7 linked regions of the Homo sapiens genome follow. The protein of the gene in region 1 purifies or fractionates together with the protein of each later gene. This does not show direct contact. Each region holds a gene or a part of one and is shown in the gene's direction. Other genes may lie near its edges.

Region 1 (3,500 bases):
CATTTCCCTAGACAGTGTTGATTCTCTCACCTGTGCCATGTGTCCAACCTGGATGTTGACAGGTGAGCTGAGTTGGATGTGGAGGACTGAGCCCAAGGCATGGAAAAAGCCCAAGGCATGGCTGATTGTAGGGTTTCCCCTCGTCAGCCGGTCGGGGACTGGGGGAGTAGCGTTGGAGGGCAGTGGAGGTTGGGGTATGATCTGAGGCTCTAGTAGTCATCCAGATCCTCCAGGTTGCCTGTTTCCCACCTAGTGTGTGGCTTTCACACAGAAGACCCCATTGCTTGAACTGAACTGATGTCACAGGCTTAGGACCAATTGTATCAGAAAATCACTGGTTCAAGAAACTGACTACTAAGAAGAAAAAAACTAAGATATTCACCATGTGTTGGTGTCTGTTTCTTTAAGAAATAACAGATACTGCTTTTTTCACCCTGCAATATTACCATGAACTGAGAATGAAATCTACTCTCTTGATAAAACTTGCACTTGGAGATTTTAATGTTCAGTATGGGAAATCTTGTTTGTGCTTTGGTAAATTTCTGAAATGAAAATCAGGTAAGCAGAAGTTGAAAACGTTGCAGTGCCTGGAGTTTGGGCCTCCTGGAGGCAGGTGCCCCACCCATACTGGTCTTTTGGGTTCATGGCATGCAGGTGTGAACCTGTCTGTTTCCACAGGTGGACATCATCAGCCGTAGTGGGGAGAAGATTCCAGTGTCTGTGTGGATGAAGAGGATGCGGCAGGAGCGCCGCCTATGCTGCGTGGTGGTCCTGGAGCCCGTGGAGAGGGTCTCGACCTGGGTCGCTTTCCAGAGCGATGTGAGTGTGCAACTTTGCCTCATGTCTCATGGACGCTGGAGCCGGCGTCGTTCTCCTCTTCAGCAAGTGCTGGTCCCTGTCTCATTCCTTTGGGAAGAAAGAGAGGATGAGGAGCCTGGAGGGTCTGCCCAGTGGTACCCTCGCTGATTGCGTGTGCTTGGGCAGGGAACGAACTTCCTATACTTCAGTTCCTCACCTGTGAACTGGGGCATAATCATAACTCCTCATAAGATTGTTTCAACATTTAAATGAGATAATATATGTAAACCCCCCAGGATAGTAGCTGGCATTAGAGACAGCCCTCATATGTGAACTGGGATGTTATTAATGAGCTGTGGTGTGGGCCAGGCTCCTGAAGAACAAGAAGGCCCACAATTTAGGTACGTCTCTGGTAGAAGGAGACAGATGATGAAGCTCTTATCAAATTCATGTGTATATGTCTCTTGCCCTTCCGATGGAGAAGTCATGTTGGGGTCTTGCTTTTGGCTTGAACATATTGAAGCTTAGTTAAATTTACAGCTGGAGCACAAGAAGCTTTTATGATAAGCACGGGGCTTTTCCTCCAGGGCACCGTCACGTCATGTGACAGTCTCTTTGCTCATCTTCACGGGTACGTGTCTGGGGAGGACGTGGCTGGGCAGCATATCACAGACCTGATCCCTTCTGTGCAGCTCCCTCCTTCTGGCCAGCACATCCCAAAGGTAGGGCTCCTGACCTCCCGCACTGTGTGATGGGGTGGAGTTCTTAGCTCTGAATCCATAACTGGAGACGCAGACCAAGGGTTTCTGAAGGCAAGGGTGGCCTTAGGGGTGGGACATGCTCAGTTTTGAGCTTCCTGTGCGCTGAGGCCTTGACCAAGGGCCGGAGCCTATGTGGTCTCCCAGCTGACCACTCTTGTCCCCTGAGTCTTCTCCCAGGAGCTGGGCCACCCACAGAGGTGGATGCTGGGACGCTGCCCAAGGCTGAGGGGTGGGAGGTAACATCCACAGCTGCGCAGCTGGTGTAGTGCTGCCTGTGGGGCCAGTATCCTGGTGCCAGATCAAGGATGGCACAGTTGCCAGTGGCGTGGCTGAGCCCCGAGCCTGAGCCCCACAGTCCTCCCTCCCTCCCTCCCTGCTGGTGCCCGGCCCCTCACTGGGGTGTCTCACTTGCCCTGGGGTTGCTGTGCCTGGGGCGGCTCTGGACACTGAGTCCTCCCCACCCACAGAAGGGCTCTTTCCTGGGCCAGCTGGGCCTGGGAGGAGAGGGAAGGCAGAGCAGTGTGGGTGTGAGATGTCCTGGGGACCTTCCCCGATGACGTGGGGTAGAAGTCGGGTCGGACGCAGCACAGACTCAGTGCTCTGTCCACGTGAAACACGGCTTAAGCCAAACGACAAGCCTTTCTTTCAGAATCTCAAGATTCAGAGGTCTGTTGGAAGAGCCAGGGACGGTACCACCTTCCCTCTGAGCTTAAAGCTGAAATCCCAACCCAGCAGCGAGGAGGCGACCACCGGTGAGGCGGCCCCTGTGAGCGGCTACCGGGCATCTGTCTGGGTGTTCTGCACCATCAGTGGCCTCATCACCCTCCTGCCGGATGGGACCATCCACGGCATCAACCACAGCTTCGCGCTGACACTGTTTGGTTACGGAAAGACGGAGCTCCTGGGCAAGGTGGGGCTGCCCTGGGCGCCTGGCTCCCGTTCCCTGGGAGGAAGCTGCTGTGCTCTGCAGTGCGGGCTTGCGTGTGGCACAGGCCTCGCACCCGGCAAGCTCTCCAGCTCGCTCCTTTACCCAGGAAGGACCTTGGGTCCAGGGAGGGAGGTCCCTGCTCATGGCTGCCAAGCTCCTTCCTCTCCACCCTTCCCCAGCAACCACCGTCGGAGGGAGAGGAGCACTGTGCTTCGAAGCCCTGAGAGATCTGGTCTGACTGATGGACCAGGGTTTACGACACAACTGCGGGGGTTCATTTCTCACCCTAGTAGAAATACTAAAAAGTAGCTAAGCTGAATTGTAGTTACGTTAAATTTAAGTTAGTTAAAAAGCAGTTAGTGTTCTTCCTGGATGAGGGGTTCCCACAGGAGCTGAGGGCATTGAGACCTTGCAGGGATTTTGGGGGCATGGACACTTGTGCCCTCTGTGAGGTTAGAGCGGGTTCTGGCATTACAGCTATGGGCAGTGTCCCGGTGAGGGGGCCACACACAGGTTCAGAGGAAGCATCTGTCAGAGCAGCTCCTGGCCTGGGAGGAAGGCCCCACAGTCCTTCTGTCCTGGGTGCATGTCACTGTTCCGGCCACCAGTGAGCCGCGTGAGGTGAGGCTTGCAAACACAGGCTCCCAGATCCATCTAAACATGGGGCCAAAGGCCAGATGTCTGCTCCAAAGATGTGTCGATGTCACTGTAACTTGCCGCAGAGTATGTTTTTACCTTTTTCTTAAGGGGAAAATCACAGATCACATGTTGAGCATCTGAGGGGCTTCAGGTGCGTCGAAGGGCATTTGGCCCGAGGCCTTTCCTGACCTTAAGGGTGAACCCTCAGGGACTGGCTCTCCTTGTGTTCATTCCTCCCCCAGGGGGACGGTCCAGTGGGTCAGCGTGGATCCTCCAGGTTCTGAAATGTCCCTGCTTTGTTTTCTAGAATATCACTTTCCTGATTCCTGGTTTCTACAGCTACATGGACCTTGCGTACAACAGCTCATTACAGC
Region 2 (3,500 bases), on another chromosome or scaffold:
TAGTACCTGGGACTACAGGCGCCCACCACCATGCCCGGCTAATTTTTGTATTTTTAGTACAGAAGTGCTTTCACCATGTTGGCCATGCTGGTCTCAAACTCCTGACCTCAGGTGATTCGCCTGCCTTGGCCTCCCAAAGTGGTGAGAAAACAGGTGTGAGCCACCACGCTCGGCCTTGAATTTGTTTTTAATTTGAATTTTCTGCATACCTTTTGACATAAACTATATTACATCATGTTTGGACAGAGTGGGGTGTAATAAAAGTAGAATATGGTGACTTAACATGTCACATTTTTAAGGAATGAGGCAGATAGGTATTATTATTGGGTAATACATTTATTTGTTGCCCCTCTTTTTGAGACTCTCAGGTATTCTAACTTCCACCTTTGTAGAACAGCCTGTTGAACCCAAGCTGCATGTTTGGACATTAGTGGTATATCTCGTAGGGACTTTTGAAGAAGAATATTGCATGAAGATTCAAAATATCAAAACTAACTTTGATTATGTAAGAATACATCTCCTTGGTTATTTCGTGTGCAAAGATTGGGATCACAAGATCGTGCAAGGACGTCAGCACATCTGGCAGTACTTGGTGTTCACAGAGTGCATACCTGGGTCTTTGTTTCATTTCCACTATAAATTTCTTAACTGTTTTTAATTTTTCCCTTCTGCAAGGCGTGCAATGGAATTGAGTTTTGCCCTGGTAAATGGGAATAATATCCGAGGCATGATGAAAGAATTACTTTATTTTCTGGATTCGTGTGAGCCAGAATTTAAAGCAGACTGTGCATCTGGAATCTTTCTTGCTGCAGAAAAGTAAGATTTAATTTTTACCTTTATTGGTAAAGTCTGCTTGGAACTTTTGGAAGTGTCTTTAAAACATGGGGAGGGGGCTGGGCGCGGTGGCACACGCCTGCAGTCTCAGCAGTTTGGGAGGCCAAGGCAGGTGGATCATGAAGTCAGGAGTTCGAGACCAGCCTGGCCAACATAGTGAAACCCTGTCGCCACTAAAAATACAAAAATTTGTTGGGCCTGGTGGCACGCGCCTGTAGTCCCAGCTACTCGGCAGGCTGAGGCAGGAGAATCACTTGAACCTGGGAGGTGGAGGTTGCAGTGAGCCAAGGTTATGCCACTGCACTCCAGCCTAGGTGACAGAGCAAGACTCCATCTCAAAAACAAAACAAAAAAAAAAAAATGGGGAAACTACTTTAAATATGTTTAAAACACATAACATTTATTTCAAACCCTCAATTATAAATTAGCTTGGAGAAGGCTATTATAGCCAGCATTTAAATATGCTGAGACCAAAAAAATTTCACACTTTTATGAAATCTTCTCCTTTATCTGTTCTTTAACCTCTCATCTATGATGCTGGTTTTTTTTGTTTTGGGTTTTTTTGAGACAGGGTCTCACTTTGTCACCTAGGCTGGAGTGCAGTGGCACAGTCTCGGCTCAGTGCAACCTTGACCTCCCAGGTTCAGGGGATCCTCCTGCCTCAGCCCCCCAAGTAGCTGGGACCATAGGCTTACGCCACCACACCCTGCTAATTTCTGGGTTTGTTTTTTTCTTTTTGTAGAGATGGGGTTTCGCTATGTTGTCCAGGCTGGTCTCGAACTCCTGGACTCAAGCGATTCGCCTGCCTCAGCCTCCCAAAGTGCTAGGATTACAGGCATCAGCCACCACACCTGGCCTGTGATGCTGTTTTAATAAAGGCAATAGAACAGTTACAGCACCTGAATTGCAGCTCTATGCAGAATTTTGAGGAAGTACCTTATGATTTTAGTAGTACAGCTATTCTTTCTCTTCTTTCCACTCTGAATTTAAGGAAACAAGTTTTTAGTCCAAATGTTGTCTTGGTCTGAAAACAGTCCCTTTTCTTCTTTCTTCTTTATCGTCTCCTGCCCTGACTGAATGATTCATTTTCTCTGAAACTGAAAACAAATCTCATTTCTCAGCTTAGCAACTCTTATTGCAATCTTATGGGAAACATCTGAGTTTGACTATGTACCCTCTTTTTTTTTTTTCTTTAATTTTAGAAACGGAGTCTTGCTCTGTCACCCAGGCTGGAGGGCAGTGGCCCAGTCATAGCTTACTGCAGCCTGGACTTCTGGGCTTAAGCCATCCTTCTGCCTCAGCCTCCTGAGTAGCTGGGACTGTAGCTGCAAATCATCATGTGCCACTAATTTTTTAATTTTTATTTTGTAGAGATGGGGTCTTGCTATGTTACCCAGGTTTGTGTGGAACTCCTGGCCTCAAGCACTCCTTCCTCCTTGGCGTCCCAAAGTACTGGGATTATAGGCATGAGCCACTGAAGTCAGTTGACTGTATACCTTTTTATCACTCTTTGAAATGGCATTTGCTGCTAGATTTGAAGTTGAAATGTTTCCAGATATGTTCACTTATCCAGGGAACCTAGAAAAGACTGTAGGACAGGATTTTCTTCTCTTTTCTTTTCCTTTCTTTTCCTTTCCTTCCTTTCTTTCTTTCTTTCTTTTTCTTTCTTTTCTTTCTCTCTCTTTTTTGTTCCTTCCTTCCTTCCTTCCTTCTTTCCTTCCATCTTCTTTCCTTCTTTCTTTTCTTTCTTCTCTTCTCTTTCTTCCCTTTCTTTTCTTTCTTCTGTTTCTTCTCTTTCTTTTCTCTCTCTTCTTTCTCACTGTAGCCTCAACCTCCTAGGCTCAGGCAATCCTCCTACCTCAACCTCCCAGAGTAGCTGAACTACAGGCACCCACCACCACACCCAGCTAATTTTTGTATTTTTTGGTGAGATGGAGTTTCACCGTGTTGCCCAGGCTGGTCTCGAACTCCTGAGCTCAGGTGATCTCCCACCTCGGCCTCCCAAGATGTTGGGATGACAGGTGTGAGTCACCCTGCTTGGGCAGGATTTTCTAGTCACTGAAAACGGTATATTTTACTGGTTCCAAGTGTCCCTTTCCATTGTTTTTTTCAGGTATGCACCTTCCAAACGATGGCATATAGACACAATTATGCGTGTTTTGACAACGGTAAGTAGCTTCTTTCAGACAGCATATACGAAGTGCTGGGATATACTGATGTTATCATGAAGTTTATGTTCTAGTCAGGGAGGTAAGAAATTCACAAGTAAATAGGTAACATTAATGTCAGTTAGGAATAAATGCCATGAAGAAAAACCTAAAGCAGCATGGAGGAATATAATGATGGCAGGATAAGGTGGGATATAGGGCAACTGGCCAAGTGTTTTAGATTAGAGTTAGTCAGGGAGGTCTCTCAGAGGAGATAACATTTGAGTAGAGACCTAAGAGACATGAGGTGCAAGCCATGCAGAGATCGTGAGGAATAGTGTACCATACGGAGGGAACCCTAAGTGCAAAGACCTGAGGTAGGAACAAGCATAGCTTGCTTGGAGAGCAACAGGAAGGCAAGTGAAGCCATAAAGTGAGAGAGGCAGAGAATGGTAGGATGGATGTCAGAGACATAAGCGGAGCCAGACTATGTAGGCCTCATGGGAGCTTGCATTTTAT
Region 3 (2,686 bases), on another chromosome or scaffold:
GGCTCTCCCGCCACCAGCACAGCCACGGGGCTGCCGGCGGGCAAGCGTTCCGCTGCGGCAGCTGCGACGGCTCCTTCCCGCAGCTGGCCAGCCTCCTGGCGCATCAGCAGTGCCACGTGGAAGAGGCCGCGGCCGGGCGCCCGCCCCCGCAGGCTGAGGCTGCGGAGGTGACCTGCCCCCAGGAACCGCTGGCGCCTGCCGCCCCCGTCCCGCCGCCACCCCCGTCCGCCCCCGCTTCTGCGGAGCGGCCCTACAAATGTGCCGAGTGCGGCAAGTCCTTCAAGGGCTCCTCCGGGCTGCGCTACCACCTGCGGGACCACACGGGCGAGCGGCCCTACCAGTGTGGCGAGTGCGGCAAGGCCTTCAAGCGCTCCTCCCTGCTGGCCATCCACCAGCGGGTGCACACGGGCCTGCGGGCCTTCACCTGTGGCCAGTGCGGCCTCACCTTCAAGTGGTCGTCCCACTACCAGTACCACCTGCGGCTGCACTCTGGCGAGCGGCCCTACGCCTGCGGGGAGTGTGGCAAGGCCTTCCGCAACACGTCGTGCCTGCGTCGCCACCGCCACGTGCACACTGGCGAGAGGCCCCACGCCTGCGGTGTCTGCGGCAAGAGCTTCGCGCAGACCTCCAACCTGCGGCAGCACCAGCGCGTGCACACGGGCGAGCGGCCCTTCCGCTGCCCGCTCTGCCCCAAGACCTTCACCCACTCCTCCAACCTGCTGCTGCACCAGCGCACGCACTCGGCGGAGCGCCCCTTCACCTGCCCCATCTGCGGTCGCGGCTTCGTTATGGCCGCCTATCTGCAGCGGCACCTGAGGACGCACGCCCCGGCCAACACGCCTCCCAGCACCACAGCCCCTGCCGCCGGCCCCCAGCCCCCTGCTCCACTGGCTGCTGCGCGGGCCCCGCCAGCCACCCAAGATGTCCACGTCCTGCCCCACCTCCAGGCCACGCTCTCCCTCGAGGTGGCGGGGGGCACGGCCCAGGCCCCGAGCTTGGGGCCAGCAGCGCCCAACTCTCAGACGTTCCTCCTGGTGCAAACTGCCCAGGGCCTCCAGCTGATCCCCAGCAGCGTGCAGCCCCCTACACCTCCGCCCCCTCCCGCACCTCCCAAGCTCATCCTGCTGCCCTCCTCCAGTGCTGGGGCTGGGGGCGGCCGTGCAAGGCAGGGCCCGCGGGCAGTGGGGAAAGCGGGCCAGGGGGCGGGAGTGGTCTGGCTGCCAGGCCCTGGGGGTCTAGGGGTGCAGGGAGCGGCCAGCGCTGGGGCCAGCGGGACAGGGCAGAGCCTCATCGTTCTGCAGAATGTGGGGGGTGGGGAGGCAGGGCCACAGGAAATGAGTGGGGTGCAGCTCCAGCCCCTCCGACCAGCCCCAGAAGTAACCACGGTCCAGCTCCAGCCAGCGCAGGAGGTGACCACAGTCCAGCTCCAGCCAGCACAGGAAGTAACCACGGTCCAGCTCCAGCCAGCACAGGAGGTGACCACGGTCCAGCTCCAGCCCGTGGCCGGCCAGCTCTCCAATTCCAGTGGGGGAGCTGTGGCTACTGAGGCACCCAACCTGCTGGTTGTTCAGAGCGGGGCAGCTGAGGAGTTGCTCACTGGCCCGGGCCCCGGGGAGGCGGGGGATGGCGAGGCCAGCACTGGTGTGGTCCAGGATGTCCTCTTTGAGACACTCCAGACGGACGAGGGCTTGCAGAGCGTGCTGGTGCTGAGCGGGGCCGATGGCGAACAGACTCGACTCTGCGTACAGGAGGTAGAAACACTTCCTCCTGGGCTGACGGAGCCGCCTGCCACCGGCCCACCCGGACAGAAACTCCTCATCATCCGCAGCGCCCCAGCCACTGAGCTGCTGGACAGCAGCAACACTGGAGGAGGCACCGCCACGCTGCAGCTCCTGGCCCCACCGCCGTCAGGCCCAGCCTCGGGCCCCGCGGGGCTCCCCGGGGCTCCAGCCTCCCAGATGGTGCAAGTGGTCCCCGCAGGAGCTGGGCCTGGTGTTATGACCCCTCAGGGCCTGCCCTCCATCCAGATTGTCCAGACTCTACCCGCAGTCCAGCTGGTGCACACGTTTTGAGGAGAGGCAGTGATTCCCCTCCCGCCCCGCACAGAGACCCCGACTCACTGCCAGCCGGGGCGGGGCAGGGTGCCGCAGGCTGGGCTTGCTAATAAAGACCCGAGTCTCCCCGCCTGTGTTTTGTTTTCCTGGGGGGAGGGAAGGGGGCAAAGTCATGGTCCTAGCCCCCGCCTGGGAGCGTGGAGTCTTAAGTCTTGCGTCCTGGGTCGCAGATGGCTTGTTCTGCATCCTGGGGCCAGCCACTACGTAGGGCTCAGTTCCCCTGTCCTGAAACCAAAAAAGGCCGCAGGGGTCATTATAGTGGGGAGGTGGTGACATCAGACTCCAGGGAGTGCTACTTGTTCACTGTAGGTCGCCCCGCTGCCCCCCTCGTGTGAGAAGTAGGGGGATCCTTATGCGGAAGGGTTCTGCGACCCCGGGCGCCCCGTGGGTGGAGTGGGGTCCCTGGGGATGGGGGAGTCGGGCGCCAGGATGCTGAGCGTGGCCGGCTCCTCCCGCGAAGGCCCCGGCACGGATGAGAATCCACGCGCTGGCGTCGCCGCCCGGCGCTCAGGTTGCTCAGCAACGAGGGAACGTGGGGCGGGAGCTCGCGCTGGTCCCCAGCCCGCCGCCCG
Region 4 (2,667 bases), about 130 Mb from region 1:
ACAGCACCAGCCTTGTCTGATGGTAGCTGAGGACAACAAGGGAGGCGGAGCACCCAGGGAGGGACAAGAGTCGGGGGCATCACTACCCCTGGCTTGTGAGGTACAGGAAGTGAGGGGGCTTATCAGAGCCTGAAAGATTGTGGCTCTGATCAAGGACACAGCCTCCATCAGAACCACATCCAGGCAGGTCAGGACTCCTCAGGCTGGGTCACTGTCATTTGCCAACCCCAGCTAAAAACCAGTCAGCCTCTCAGGTGCAGAGAGTGGGTTGGGGGGCAGCGGCGCAGATGGAAAATAACTGGCTCAGGTTTCACCCCAGTGCTGAATCCTGTCCATCAGCAGTGGTTTCCTGGAGGGCCGGGTTGAGGTTTCTGAGGCTGATTCCTGGCAGAGTGGGAAAGAACATCTTAAGTTGACAAGGAATGTCTGCAGCAGGGATGGGAGGCACCTAAGAGATTAGGAAGGATGTGTGCAGAGTGGGTTGGTTGTAGAACAGAGAGGCTGAGAACCCTCGCAACAGTCACCATCATCACTACAGGACAAGTCCCAGGGACACTGGGTGCCTAACAGGAAGCCTCCTGTGTTTCCCCACCTCCACTTAGGGAAAATACAGATGTCAGTTGATGTAGACATGCTGAATCTCCACATGAGCTGAGTCAGAGCACACATCTCAGGCCTGAAGCCCAAGTGGGATCATCCTGACCCTTGGCCCTTAAACCACCATGCTGCAGTGGGCCTTTCGGGGGGCTGGTTCTGCTCCTGCAGGCATACCTCACACTAGGAGGGTGGACAGGCCCACCTCCCCAGCTGGACTTCCCCCATGGAAACAGGACACAGAGGGGAGCCCCGCTGGCTCCAGATAACAGCTCTGACCCACCAAGGGAGAACGGGAGAAGAGAGGGCAGAGGGCTCCTCCATGGGCTGACGTGGGAATGTGAGGGGAGAGGTGGCTCCCCGGTGACATCCCATTGGGGCCCCGCTGCAGGGCTCTGAGGAGTGGGTGACCTGGGGCTGGAGCAGGAGAAGGCATCCAGATAGCCACCCACACTCCCTCCCTCCCACAGTGCTCACGAAGGCCCACCTGGGGTTGCTTGGGGTTGGGAGGGACGGCCTCCAGCTGGGGAGACTCTCTGGATGTCTGCAAAGGGAGCAGAGAACTCATACAAATCATGATATTGAGGTGTCTGCACTCGCATGGGGTGAGGCTGGCAGGGAAGACTTTCTAGAAGATTCTAATTTAAAAAAAGTGTGTGTATATATAGTATATATAGGTATATGGTATATATATGCTGTATATGGTGTATATATGGTATATATATGAATATGGTATATGTATATATATGTATATGGTATATATATATACACACACCATATATACCATATATACGTATATATGGTGTGTGTATATATATACCATATATACATATATATATATACCATATACATATATATACACACACACATATATATATATGAAGAATAACAGCCATGGAGGGTAATGGGGCACTTGGGCTGAGAAGCAGACAGGTCTAAGAGAAGCATTGTGACCAGTAACACTCACCTGGTGCTTTCCACCATCCTTGCCACCTGTCATACCCCAGGGAAAGAGGACAGGATCCCAGGGAGGGGCACTCCCTGGCATTTCCTCAGGGCCCTGATTCCACACAGTTAAGGAAGGCAGGCTTTCTGCTTTAAGAATAAGTGCCAGGAGCAGGGAGCACCACATTACAGGACCTGCAGGGCCTCTCATGTGGTTCTGTCTGCAATGGAGGGAAGGTCAGGGCGATTCTCACCTGTTGTATGTCCTGTATCTCAGATGTGGATGAATGTGTGGGCCTGCAGCCGGTGTGCCCCCAGGGGACCACATGCATCAACACCGGTGGAAGCTTCCAGTGTGTCAGCCCTGAGTGCCCCGAGGGCAGCGGCAATGTGAGCTACGTGAAGACGTCTCCATTGTGAGTATCTCCAGGGGAGGCACACCCTCACCCAGGCCTCCAAGTGTGGCTGGGCTGGATGCTTCCTAGAGGTTCTTGGGAGAAGGTACAGTTATACCATAGAAAGATGAGAGGCAGGAGGCTGGGAGGCTGGTGTCTCTGAATTTCCATTTCCGCTTAGTGGTTGCATTTAATGCGTTGCTGCTCTGGAGAAATAAGAACCCCATTCCCCATGGGAGTAATATACTAAGTGCACCCCCACTACATAGAGGTTGATGGGGTTGCTGCCACCCCAGGATGGCAAAGCCAGGGCAGGCACTGAAGGGAAGAAGCTGTTGGTGACATTACCCTGATAAACCCATAGCAGCCCAGGAGACAGGTATAGATCACATGGATTTGGGAGGTGACAGCATTCACATAGCCAGGAACTATAGACTCCCTTGAGTTACACTGCATATCCCGTGCACCCTGCATTATATCACTCTGCTTTTCCAATAGTACTAGAAGGTTCTACATCTAGTAACTGCAACTCTTAAACAGCAAGTAGAGCTTTTTTTTTTTTTTTTAAAGTTGGGAGATGGGCCTTTAAGGGGAATGACTACAACTATCACAAAGCACATACATTTTCCTCTCAAAAAGAGATCACAAGAGCCCTAGCGTTGTCTTTAAAATGAAGTAACAGCCATGGAGGGTAACTTAATTATTTGAATTGCTGTTGAGTTAAAGCAGATTA
Region 5 (2,179 bases), on another chromosome or scaffold:
GCTTCAGGCTGGCCACAGGCAGGTCCTGAACCTGCGTGGGGAGCTGGAGCAACTCAAGGCTGGTGTGGCCAAGGTGGCCAGTGGGCTGAGCCGCTGCCAGGACACAGCCCAGAAACTTCAGCACACAGTGGGACACTTTGACCAGCGGGTGGCACAAGTGGAGGGTGCGTGCAGGAGGCTGGGCCTGCTGGCCGCGGGCCTGGACAGCTTGCCCACTGAGCCACTGAGGCCCAGAGAGGGCCTGTGGAGCCATGTGGACCAGCTGAATCGTACGCTGGCCCAGCACACGCAGGACATTGCCCGCCTCCGGGATGACCTACTGGACTGCCAGGCCCAGCTGGCTGAGCAGGTGCGGCCAGGGCAAGCCAACTAGACAGGCTGGCCAGGACCCAACCCCTAGATCCCACCAACTCGGGGAACATCACCCCAGAGCCCAGCCTTATCCAGCAGCGCCTTCCAGCCTTCCCTGGCTAGCCCAAATGGCACTAAGGAGGCCACTGAGGGAATCCTCCACGTGGCTGTCCCAGCCACCAAAACCCATGCACAGTGCTGCAGAAACTGGACAGTTCCGGACAGCGGTCAAGGCAAGGATGTCATGCTTGAAGGCCAGGGTAGACTTGAGAGAGTTCACATTCCACTGTCAGCAAATCAGTGTCTGGACAGCCAGCTGCAGGGCCTGAGCATGGCTGGCAGGGGCAGCTGCTGTGGCAAACTGGCCTTGATCAGTGTCCGTATGTAAGGCCTTGAGAGGACCCTGCAGGCAGTCAGCACCAGCCTCAGCAACTGTGCAGAGACCTACAGGCCCACAGCCAGTGGCCTGTCCGCATTGCCCTGTGCCCACAAGCAACAGTCCACAGCCCTTGGTGGCTTCTGTTCCTTGTCCCCTCGGCTTCTCTTCGCAGCCATCAGGACTAGGTTTGTGCAGGAAGGTGATGCCCACTGGAACTCTCCTCACACCTGGCAGCTTCATGGATGTTGTATCTGAACTAAGGACCAGAGGCTGCCAGATGTTTCTGGCTCCTCACGTGTCCTTCAGGACAGAACAGAAGCACAAAGACTCAGCCAAGAGTTCTCTTTATTCCCTTTGATCCTCCCCCAAGGTGAGGGCTTAGGCAGCTGTAGAACCCCAGGAAAGAACGGAATCCAGGCAATCTGTTTAGAGACCCCCCACTCCAAATTTATCCTTTTCCTTTCCTTCCCCTAAGATGTTTCCAGGGCCCTCTGGTGCCCACACTGTCCTCTTCCTTCCACTTGGGGGTGGGGAAATCCTTCCTGCGAGGTCAGGGCATTTCTCTACAAAGTGGCCTGAATGAGGCCAGGCCCTGAGAAGGAGCCACCAGCTGGAGGAAAGGGGCTCCAAGCCTTGCTTTTAACACCCCTGCAAAACCCCCACCCTCCCAAGATGTTCACAAAAGGTGAGAAATTCAGGTACGAAACCATCAATGGACAACTTGAAAATGCATGTTCCTCAGGCCTATGCAGTTCCCAGAGACTCTTGACACCGGTCTCTGCTGAGGCTCCCAGCCTCAGTTTCCCCCACAGCAGCACGGGCCCCACTGTGCTGCTCTTCAGGTCCCCACAGCCCTGCCTTTGGTTCCTGGACATTTGGTATTCTGCCCTCCACTCTGGTACTATCAGAGTAGGGCAGGCTCTGGATTAAAGCTTTTAGCCGGTCTAAAGCTACTTTCTTCAAAGACAGTGGGAGGAGAGGTTGCTGGGGCATCAGCCCTGCTTCCCACAGCTCCTTAGGCAAGAGCTTACCCAGCAGCTGTGAGCACCAAGCTGGCCAGCAGAGGCTGGGGGAGGACTTTCAGGCCAACACCTGCCCCAGCTGAGTTTGGGACTGTCCTTAAGCGAGGTCTGGAGAGAGGCAGCGGCAGCAGCCGGACGGGGAGCAGGCCAAGCCGGAACCACAGCCTGCAGGTGTGGGTGTGTGTCATGTGCTGAGATGCCAGGGCACCAGCAAGGGGGATATGTTGGCAGTGATGTCTGGCTTCGGAGGGTACAGTCCTGGCTCCCAGACAAGGGGCGGGGAGAACACTGTGTCCTTCCAGAGGCTGTACCACACTCCCACTGCTGTCACCCTTCACTGAAGCCTCGAGCCTCGGTAGGGCCTCCCTCTTCTCCCTGTCCTATCAAGACTTACAGCAAGGTCCCAGGTTGACAGGGAGACAGATAT
Region 6 (3,500 bases), on another chromosome or scaffold:
CACCCCCCTGTGTGGTGTGTGGTCCTGGCTTTACCTGGAGCAGCTCTCTTACTGTTCTTGAATGGTCACTGAAATGTACAAGGTTTATCTGGAGGCCTTACAGAAATTGCTATTAATATTACATTGTGATATAATTATTCCATTTCTGTTGTATCTTTTTATTGGACTTTAAAAGATCTAAAAGTTGAATGGCACGGGGCAGGGGAGCGCATGAGGACCTGAACGCTCACGGGGCAGGAGTCCGTTGCTGAGACCCCTCAGGCTGCCCCCCGGGCTGTGCATTCTAGGCTACAGGCTATGGATTTCACATTGTGGAAATTCAAGCCCATTTTTCATCCAGACTTCCCTCGTTATCCCCTCATGTCCTTCCCTGTCCCAGATTCTGTGTCACTCATGGTCACGGTTTCCCAGGCTCTGCCAGTGACTGGTTCTCTGTTTTATTCATCGTCGCTTGCCCTGAGGTTGAACCACGACTGAGAAGCCTCCCACATGAGTGTTTTCTCCCCCAGCGGCTGTGGCTTCACTATGTGTTCCCCTTGCACAGAGGGGCGTTGCCCGAGAGTGGACTTGGTGCCATCCGCCCACGTAGACCTCACAGTTCTATTCAGTGACACTGAAGTACAGTTTGGCACCTCTCGGGAGGCAGTTTGCATGGAGACATGCGTATGACTTGTCCATTCATCGTGCTTCCAGGTCAGTTCAAAGATCCTAGAACTCGCCCGGAAGCAGAGGATGAACACAGACATCCGGAGAAACATATTCTGCACAATAATGACAAGTGAAGATTTTTTGGATGCTTTTGAAAAGCTTCTGAAGTAAGCATTTGTGTGCACATTTTGACCTATTAATGAGATGCTGTAAAATAAGTAAGTTGATTTGCTTTTTGAGTTTTGGACGACTGAGTCTGATGCTGCCTAGGGAGGACTGGGCTGTTCTCATGACCATCCGCTCACGCTGTTGGATTCGTGCATCTCTGGGTTAGTCGTCATGTTCCTATTAATTTGCCTCTAGTAGTTCCTCATTAGAACATTTTATGATATATAAAGATTGGGGGTTTGGGGTTTTTTTTTTTGAGACAGGGTCTTGCCATGTTGCTCAGGCTGGAGACTGGGGAGTTTTGACTGAAAGTATCTGATGACCTTGTCAGTGGCTGTTGGTTGTCACGAATTGCTTAAAAATACATAAATCTTCATAATAAAGCTATTCTGATTCTTCATTTAAAACATCCTGGTATAGTTTGTATAATTAGTTGTAATAAGATTTTAAAGATCCTGTAATCCCAGCTACTTAGAAGGCTGAGACAGGAGGATCACTTTAGCCCAGTAGTTCAAGACCAGCCTGGGCAACATACTGAGACCCCCATCTCATTTAAAAAGAAAAAAAAAATCTTTAAATGTACCTGTGTAGTTTTATGAGGTACTTCTAAACAATGTAATGTTAATACATATTCTTTTATTTGCTTCAAACTAGGATGAAATACAGGGAGAACATGGTTCCTTTTAGGATTCTGATAATTAGGGTTTTATTTTCTAAACTAGAGTTTCTAGTTGGAGTGGAAGTCCTGAGTTCCCTTTGCCTCTCTGTGGCCTTGCCGTTTTGCCGAAAACCTCCCATCTCCCTAGTCACCCTTGGTCTCTAAAAGGGCTCTTTTGAGGAGAACTCTTATTCTCTAGTCAGCGGGTCTAGCTTATCCTTTGTACTCGAAGGACTTCGTTTATTTTTCCTCTGGTTGACTTCATGTGTTGAAAATTTTGGCCTATCAAACTACGTGTATTAAACAATAGTTTTTCCCATTCTTATTCCTCAAAATCATGAGTTATGAGTCTAAGCTTTTAATCAACATGAATTGATAATCAATGCAGCTGAAACTCAGTTGGTTCTTTGGGCCGCCTTCGCCGCCTGCGCTGCCTTCACCTGAGTGCTCTACGTGGGGCTGTGCTGTTTGCAGTGGAGCTGGTGCTCCTCTCCTGAGGTACAGAGTGTCTGCCTCTGTGCAGAGGTGGCAGCCTCAGCCGTATTCGGATCTCACCAGAAACTGGAAGCAGCCCACATACCCCTCAGTTGGGGAAAGGATAAACCATGAGACGCCGTCTAAGGGATACTTACTACTTGGCATCACGAGGGGCAAACTCCCAAGGCCCCAAGAGCATGGTGACTCTCGAGTGTATTCTGCCGTGCAGGAAGCCACCTTGCCCTGAATCTGTGTGACAGAGGCAGAGTCAAAACTAGAGGGACAGAAGCAGATTAGCAGTGGCCCACGGCAAGGGTGGCTCACGGCCCCAGGTTCTCACGGGTGATGGAGAGTTCTGTTTCGGCATTGCCGGTGGTGACCTGACCATATGGGCTTATCCACACTCAGGACTCTACACTACAAAGGATAGGTTTTACTGTGTGTGAGCTCTAACTCAAGTTTTACAAACGACGGCAGGCACCGTGGCTCATGCCTGTAATCCCAGCACTTTGGGAGGCCAAGGTGGGTGGAACACCTGAGGTCAGGAGTTCGAGAGCAGCCTGGCCAACATGGCAAAACCCCATCTCTACTAAAAACACAAAAATTAGCTGGGGGTGGTGGTGGCACCTGTAATCCAGCTACTCGGGAGGCTGAGGTACAAGAATCACTTGAACCGGAGAGATGGAGGTTGTAGTGAGCTGAAGTCATGCCACTGCACTCCAGCCTGGGTGACAGAGCAAGACTGTCTCAAAAAAAAAAGTAAGAAAATGTGAAGTCATCGCCATAGCAGGAACCAGCTCTAAGGGCACACACGATTGAGTCAGTTTATTGTCAGCCGGGCACAGCTGTCGACTTTTGCAGCGACGGGGGACCCCCTAGATGGTCTTGTCTCCTCTGACATTTTGCCACATTGTAGGAGAACCTGAGGACCAGAGAGGTTGTGACAGGGCTGGGCCCCTAGCTGGTGTCTGCCGCTGCCTCCACCTCCTTTACGTGGCTCGCCTCTAACCAGACCCTTCCAGGCGGGAAGATGTTCCCCTGAAAGGTATCAGCCATTAAACTTTGGAAGTCGAGTGATGTTCCAGTCATTGCTGTTCTGTTTTCTAGGCTTGGACTTAAGGATCAGCAGGAGAGAGAAATCATTCACGTTCTCATGGATTGCTGCCTTCAAGAGAAAACTTACAATCCCTTCTATGCTTTCCTGGCTAGCAAATTCTGTGAATATGAAAGGAGATTTCAGGTAGCTTAGTGCGGAGGCACCAGTTACGTCCGCTCTACTATTTTTTCTACACAGGCTACCTGGCTCAACCCACCTGCAAAGGAGTTCCCCAAGTCAGGAGGCCCCTGATATCCCCGTCACCTGGTCCACGCTGGCTGCCAGGCCACCTTCACTGGGAGCGGAAGTGGGAGGGCTAGAGGGGAGTGTCAAGGGTCCACCATGTCCTCATGTCACCTGCTTCTGCCACAGATGCAGGCAGTGTGGCCAGGCCAGCAGGAGCACCTCGTCGGTTCACAGTGCACCAGTCTGTTCTGATGCCCCTTGCTGTGG
Region 7 (3,500 bases), on another chromosome or scaffold:
AGCACAACCCCTACCGCCCCAGCTACAGCTACGACTATGAGTTCGACCTGGGGTCCGACCGCAATGGCAGCTTTGGGGGGCAGTACAGTGAATGCCGAGACCCAGCCCGGGAGCGGGGCTCCCTTGATGGCTTCATGCGGGGCCGGGGCCAGGGCCGCTTCCAGGACCGGAGCAACCCTGGCACCTTCATGCGCAGCGACCCCTTCGTGCCCCCCGCTGCGTCCTCTGAGCCCCTGTCCACGCCCTGGAACGAGCTGAACTACGTGGGTGGACGGGGCCTGGGAGGGCCCTCCCCCAGCCGGCCACCTCCGTCCCTCTTCTCCCAGTCCATGGCTCCCGACTACGGCGTGATGGGCATGCAGGGGGCGGGCGGCTATGACAGCACCATGCCCTACGGATGTGGCCGCTCGCAGCCTCGGATGCGGGATCGGGATCGGGTAAGCCCTCGCAAGGTTCCTTCCGGCCGCCTTCGCTTCTCTTTTTAGCAGCTTTATTGAGGTAAAATTTCCCCATCTCAACATTCACTTAAATGTTTTTAAGTGCGCAGTTCGACTTTTAGTTAATTTACAGGATTGTGCAACCATCCCCACCATCACAGTCTAATCTTAGCATTTATGTCAACCAGAAGAGAAACTTCTTCTCATTAGTCACCCCTGTCTCTTCCCCGCCCCCACCAGCCCCCGACAACCACCACTGGTCTCTGGATTTGTGTGTTCTAGACATTTTGCACAAATGGAGTCGCGAAACGTGTGGCCTTTTGTTCCTGGCTTCTTTTCACTCAGCATGATTTTCTTTTTAGTTTCAAATTATGTTGTCTCTTTGCTTTTTGAAAAGACCTTTTGTGCCTGTGTTGTCTGATCCTACAACCTCCTTGTTCTTTTCTGTGGGGCATCTTCATGGCCCTCGTAAGTAGCTCATGGGGTGTGCTTGTTGTCTGTAGCCCAAGAGGAGAGGGTTTGACCGCTTCGGACCAGATGGCACGGGCAGGAAACGGAAGCAGTTCCAACTTTACGAGGAGCCAGACACCAAACTGGCCCGGGTTGACAGTGAAGGAGATTTCTCCGAAAATGGTATGTCCTGGGGGCCAGGTGGGCCAGACAGATGTAGGATGGGTCGGCTGCCTGCTGGGGGCTCTGCTTGCCCCATCTGTGTCGTGGACACTCGCAGGTGGCATGTTTCAACCCCACTGTGGTCAGGGCAGACTCACCCTGGATGGCGAGCTTGGGAGGGCGGAAACCGGATGGGACCGTTCTCCGGGGACTGACTTTTCCTTTCTTTGTGTCTGGCAGATGACGCAGCTGGTGACTTCCGCTCAGGAGATGAAGAATTCAAGGGTGTAAGTCCACCAGGCAGCCCTTTTGCCTCTAGTGTGGGATTTCTTCTTTCTTTAATCACCCTTCCTCACAAAGGGGCAGGAGCAGCTGCCATGGTAGATTTGACTACCTCTGAGTGGATTCAGGACCCTGACTTTTAGCTAGATTTCTAAAAGTTTTCCACCTTAGCCGGCACGGTGGCTCACACCTGTAATCCTAGCACTTAGGGAGGCTCAGGTGGGTGGATCACTTGAGGTCGAGAGTTGGAGACCAGCCTGGCCAACATGGTGAAACCCCGTCTCGATTAAAAATACAAAAATTAGCCAGGAGTGGTGGCACTTGCCTGTAGTAGCAGCTACTTGGGAGGCTGAGGGAGGAGGATCACTTGAACCTGGGAGGTGGAGGTTGCAGTGAGCTGACGTTGCATCACTGCACCCCAGCCTGGGCGACAGAGGGAGACTCCGTCTCAAAAAAAAAAAAAAAGTTTTCAACTTACAACAAACATTCCTTTTCTGAAAAAAGCTCCCAGTTCCTCTCCCTGGTCTCTAGGCCAGTAAGTGCAGGGACTGTGGGCTGAAGCCTCCAAGCACAGGCTGGAGGCTCATTTGCCGCCAGCTCCGTGCCGGGTGCCGCTGACTGGTGTCCTCATCCTTCCATCCTCACAACAAGGCACAGGCAGGCAGCACGTGGGGCCAGTTCATAGCCGGGACCACCCCAAGCTCTTGGGGAGGTGCCTCAGCCACCCCAGTGTAGATTCTGATCCAAGTTGGAGGTGTAGGGCCTGGAGGTCCAGAGTGGGAAGGAGGGCCTTCCCCAAGTCCTTAGAGTCACACAGGCAGGGAACAGGCAGGAGATGGTGGCTTTTCAGGTTTTCAGAGTCTCACTTGATCCCTATTTTGCTGGTCTTGAGATTAGGAATCTCTGTAAACCTGCTGATTGTTAATTTAGCCGTATGTTCACTGCCTAAGGAGTCAGCTCTGTTCAGATTCTCAGTTGAATCGTTTTTATCTATACGTGATTGTTATTAAGACATCGGGTAAATATAGGCCTGGCGCGGTGGCTCACACCTGTAATCCCAGCACTTTGGGAGGCCAAGGCGGGTGGATCACGAGGTCACAAGATTGAGACCATCCTGGCCAATATGGTGAAACCCCGTCTCTACTGAAAATACAAAAATTAGCTGGATGTGGCGGCATGCGCCTATAGTCCCAGCTACTCGGGAGGCTGAGGCAGAGGATTTGCTTCAACCCAGGAAGCAGAGGTTGCAGTGAGCTGAGATTGCATCATTGCACTCCAGCCTGGGAGACAGGGCGAGACTCCGTCTCAAAAAAAAAAAAAAAAAAAAAAAAGACATTGGGTAAATATAAACAAAAGCTCGGGAAACGTGGTGGAACCCATTTTCTATGAAGAATGCCAGAACTGGCATCCCCCAAGTGAGACTCTATCTCCCTACGGTTGGTGAACAGGCTCCATTCATAGAATTGTACGGGTGGGTCTTTGTCATGGGGCAGGCAGTTCTGCAGCTTAGGAGGAACCGAGAGAGGGTGGGTGAATGGCTTTTTAGCAAGGTGATTGTCACAGAATCTCTGAAGGCAACTAGGAGTAATAACAGGACACACAGGCCCTGTCCTGAGCCCCGGAGGCTGGTCCTAACACACTGTGGCTCATTCTTGGTGGCATAGCAACCTAGGTCTTGGGTGAGACTGCCCACCAGGCAGTGGCCAGGGACTGGGCTGGTTGTGGAGAGTCTGGACACACCAGCTCACTGCCGGACTTTGTGTATACTCTTTTCCAGGAGGATGAACTCTGCGACTCTGGGAGGCAAAGAGGTAGGCATCACCGTGTCCCTTGCAGCTTTCCTGTGTCTTCCCAGCTGCCCCGCACTTACTGCCCAGCTTCTGAGCAAGCCAGGGGCCTGGATGGAGGGGCCCGTGGCTGTGGGGGAAGAGGGGCTGCAGCCACCAGATGGGCCTTGACCGTGGCGATCAGCCAACACTTTGCTTCAAAGTGTCTGGGGCAGCATTTACTGGAAACGGGTCTGTCTGCCTGACCCGATGTGGGCTGCAGTGGGGATGGGGGGCAGCCTTGGGTGTCCACCACAGTCGAAGTTTGTAGGGAAGGAGAAACATGAGAGAAGAGGCCCCCAGCCCATCTTCTGTGCCCTCCTCGGCCAGTGCATTTCCCTGA

The links.
Region 2: the proteins of PASK (region 1) and AP1G1 purify together in Homo sapiens (affinity purification with mass spectrometry, with the first as the bait; one large-scale study listed by BioGRID). This does not show direct contact.
Region 3: the proteins of PASK (region 1) and ZNF628 purify together in Homo sapiens (affinity purification with mass spectrometry, with the first as the bait; one large-scale study listed by BioGRID). This does not show direct contact.
Region 4: the proteins of PASK (region 1) and FBLN7 purify together in Homo sapiens (co-immunoprecipitation; one large-scale study listed by IntAct). This does not show direct contact.
Region 5: the proteins of PASK (region 1) and EMILIN3 purify together in Homo sapiens (affinity purification with mass spectrometry; 2 studies listed by BioGRID and IntAct, with this or other methods). This does not show direct contact.
Region 6: the proteins of PASK (region 1) and NOM1 purify together in Homo sapiens (affinity purification with mass spectrometry, with the first as the bait; one large-scale study listed by BioGRID). This does not show direct contact.
Region 7: the proteins of PASK (region 1) and AKAP8 purify together in Homo sapiens (affinity purification with mass spectrometry; one large-scale study listed by BioGRID and IntAct). This does not show direct contact.

The regions. Positions count from the first base shown.
Region 1 is NC_000002.12:241,135,973-241,139,472, reverse strand, and holds part of PASK (PAS domain-containing serine/threonine-protein kinase), read left to right. Parts: intron 1-678; coding exon 679-819; intron 820-1,385; coding exon 1,386-1,520; intron 1,521-2,208; coding exon 2,209-2,469; intron 2,470-3,433; coding exon 3,434-3,500. UniProt on the Homo sapiens protein: Serine/threonine-protein kinase involved in energy homeostasis and protein translation. Phosphorylates EEF1A1, GYS1, PDX1 and RPS6.
Region 2 is NC_000016.10:71,753,335-71,756,834, reverse strand, and holds part of AP1G1 (AP-1 complex subunit gamma-1), read left to right. Parts: intron 1-675; coding exon 676-816; intron 817-2,947; coding exon 2,948-3,002; intron 3,003-3,500. UniProt on the Homo sapiens protein: Subunit of clathrin-associated adaptor protein complex 1 that plays a role in protein sorting in the late-Golgi/trans-Golgi network (TGN) and/or endosomes.
Region 3 is NC_000019.10:55,482,302-55,484,987, forward strand, and holds the end of ZNF628 (zinc finger protein 628), read left to right. Parts: coding exon 1-2,072; 3' UTR 2,073-2,186; downstream 2,187-2,686. UniProt on the Homo sapiens protein: Transcriptional activator. Binds DNA on GT-box consensus sequence 5'-TTGGTT-3'. Plays a role in spermiogenesis.
Region 4 is NC_000002.12:112,183,385-112,186,051, forward strand, and holds part of FBLN7 (fibulin-7 isoform 1 precursor), read left to right. Parts: intron 1-1,816; coding exon 1,817-1,955; intron 1,956-2,667. UniProt on the Homo sapiens protein: An adhesion molecule that interacts with extracellular matrix molecules in developing teeth and may play important roles in differentiation and maintenance of odontoblasts as well as in dentin formation.
Region 5 is NC_000020.11:41,359,462-41,361,640, reverse strand, and holds the end of EMILIN3 (EMILIN-3 precursor), read left to right. Parts: coding exon 1-373; 3' UTR 374-1,679; downstream 1,680-2,179.
Region 6 is NC_000007.14:156,963,212-156,966,711, forward strand, and holds part of NOM1 (nucleolar MIF4G domain-containing protein 1), read left to right. Parts: intron 1-693; coding exon 694-815; exon of another isoform or gene 816-977; intron 978-3,058; coding exon 3,059-3,191; intron 3,192-3,500. UniProt on the Homo sapiens protein: Plays a role in targeting PPP1CA to the nucleolus.
Region 7 is NC_000019.10:15,369,788-15,373,287, reverse strand, and holds part of AKAP8 (A-kinase anchor protein 8), read left to right. Parts: coding exon 1-437; intron 438-940; coding exon 941-1,070; intron 1,071-1,289; coding exon 1,290-1,336; intron 1,337-3,108; coding exon 3,109-3,142; intron 3,143-3,500. UniProt on the Homo sapiens protein: Anchoring protein that mediates the subcellular compartmentation of cAMP-dependent protein kinase (PKA type II).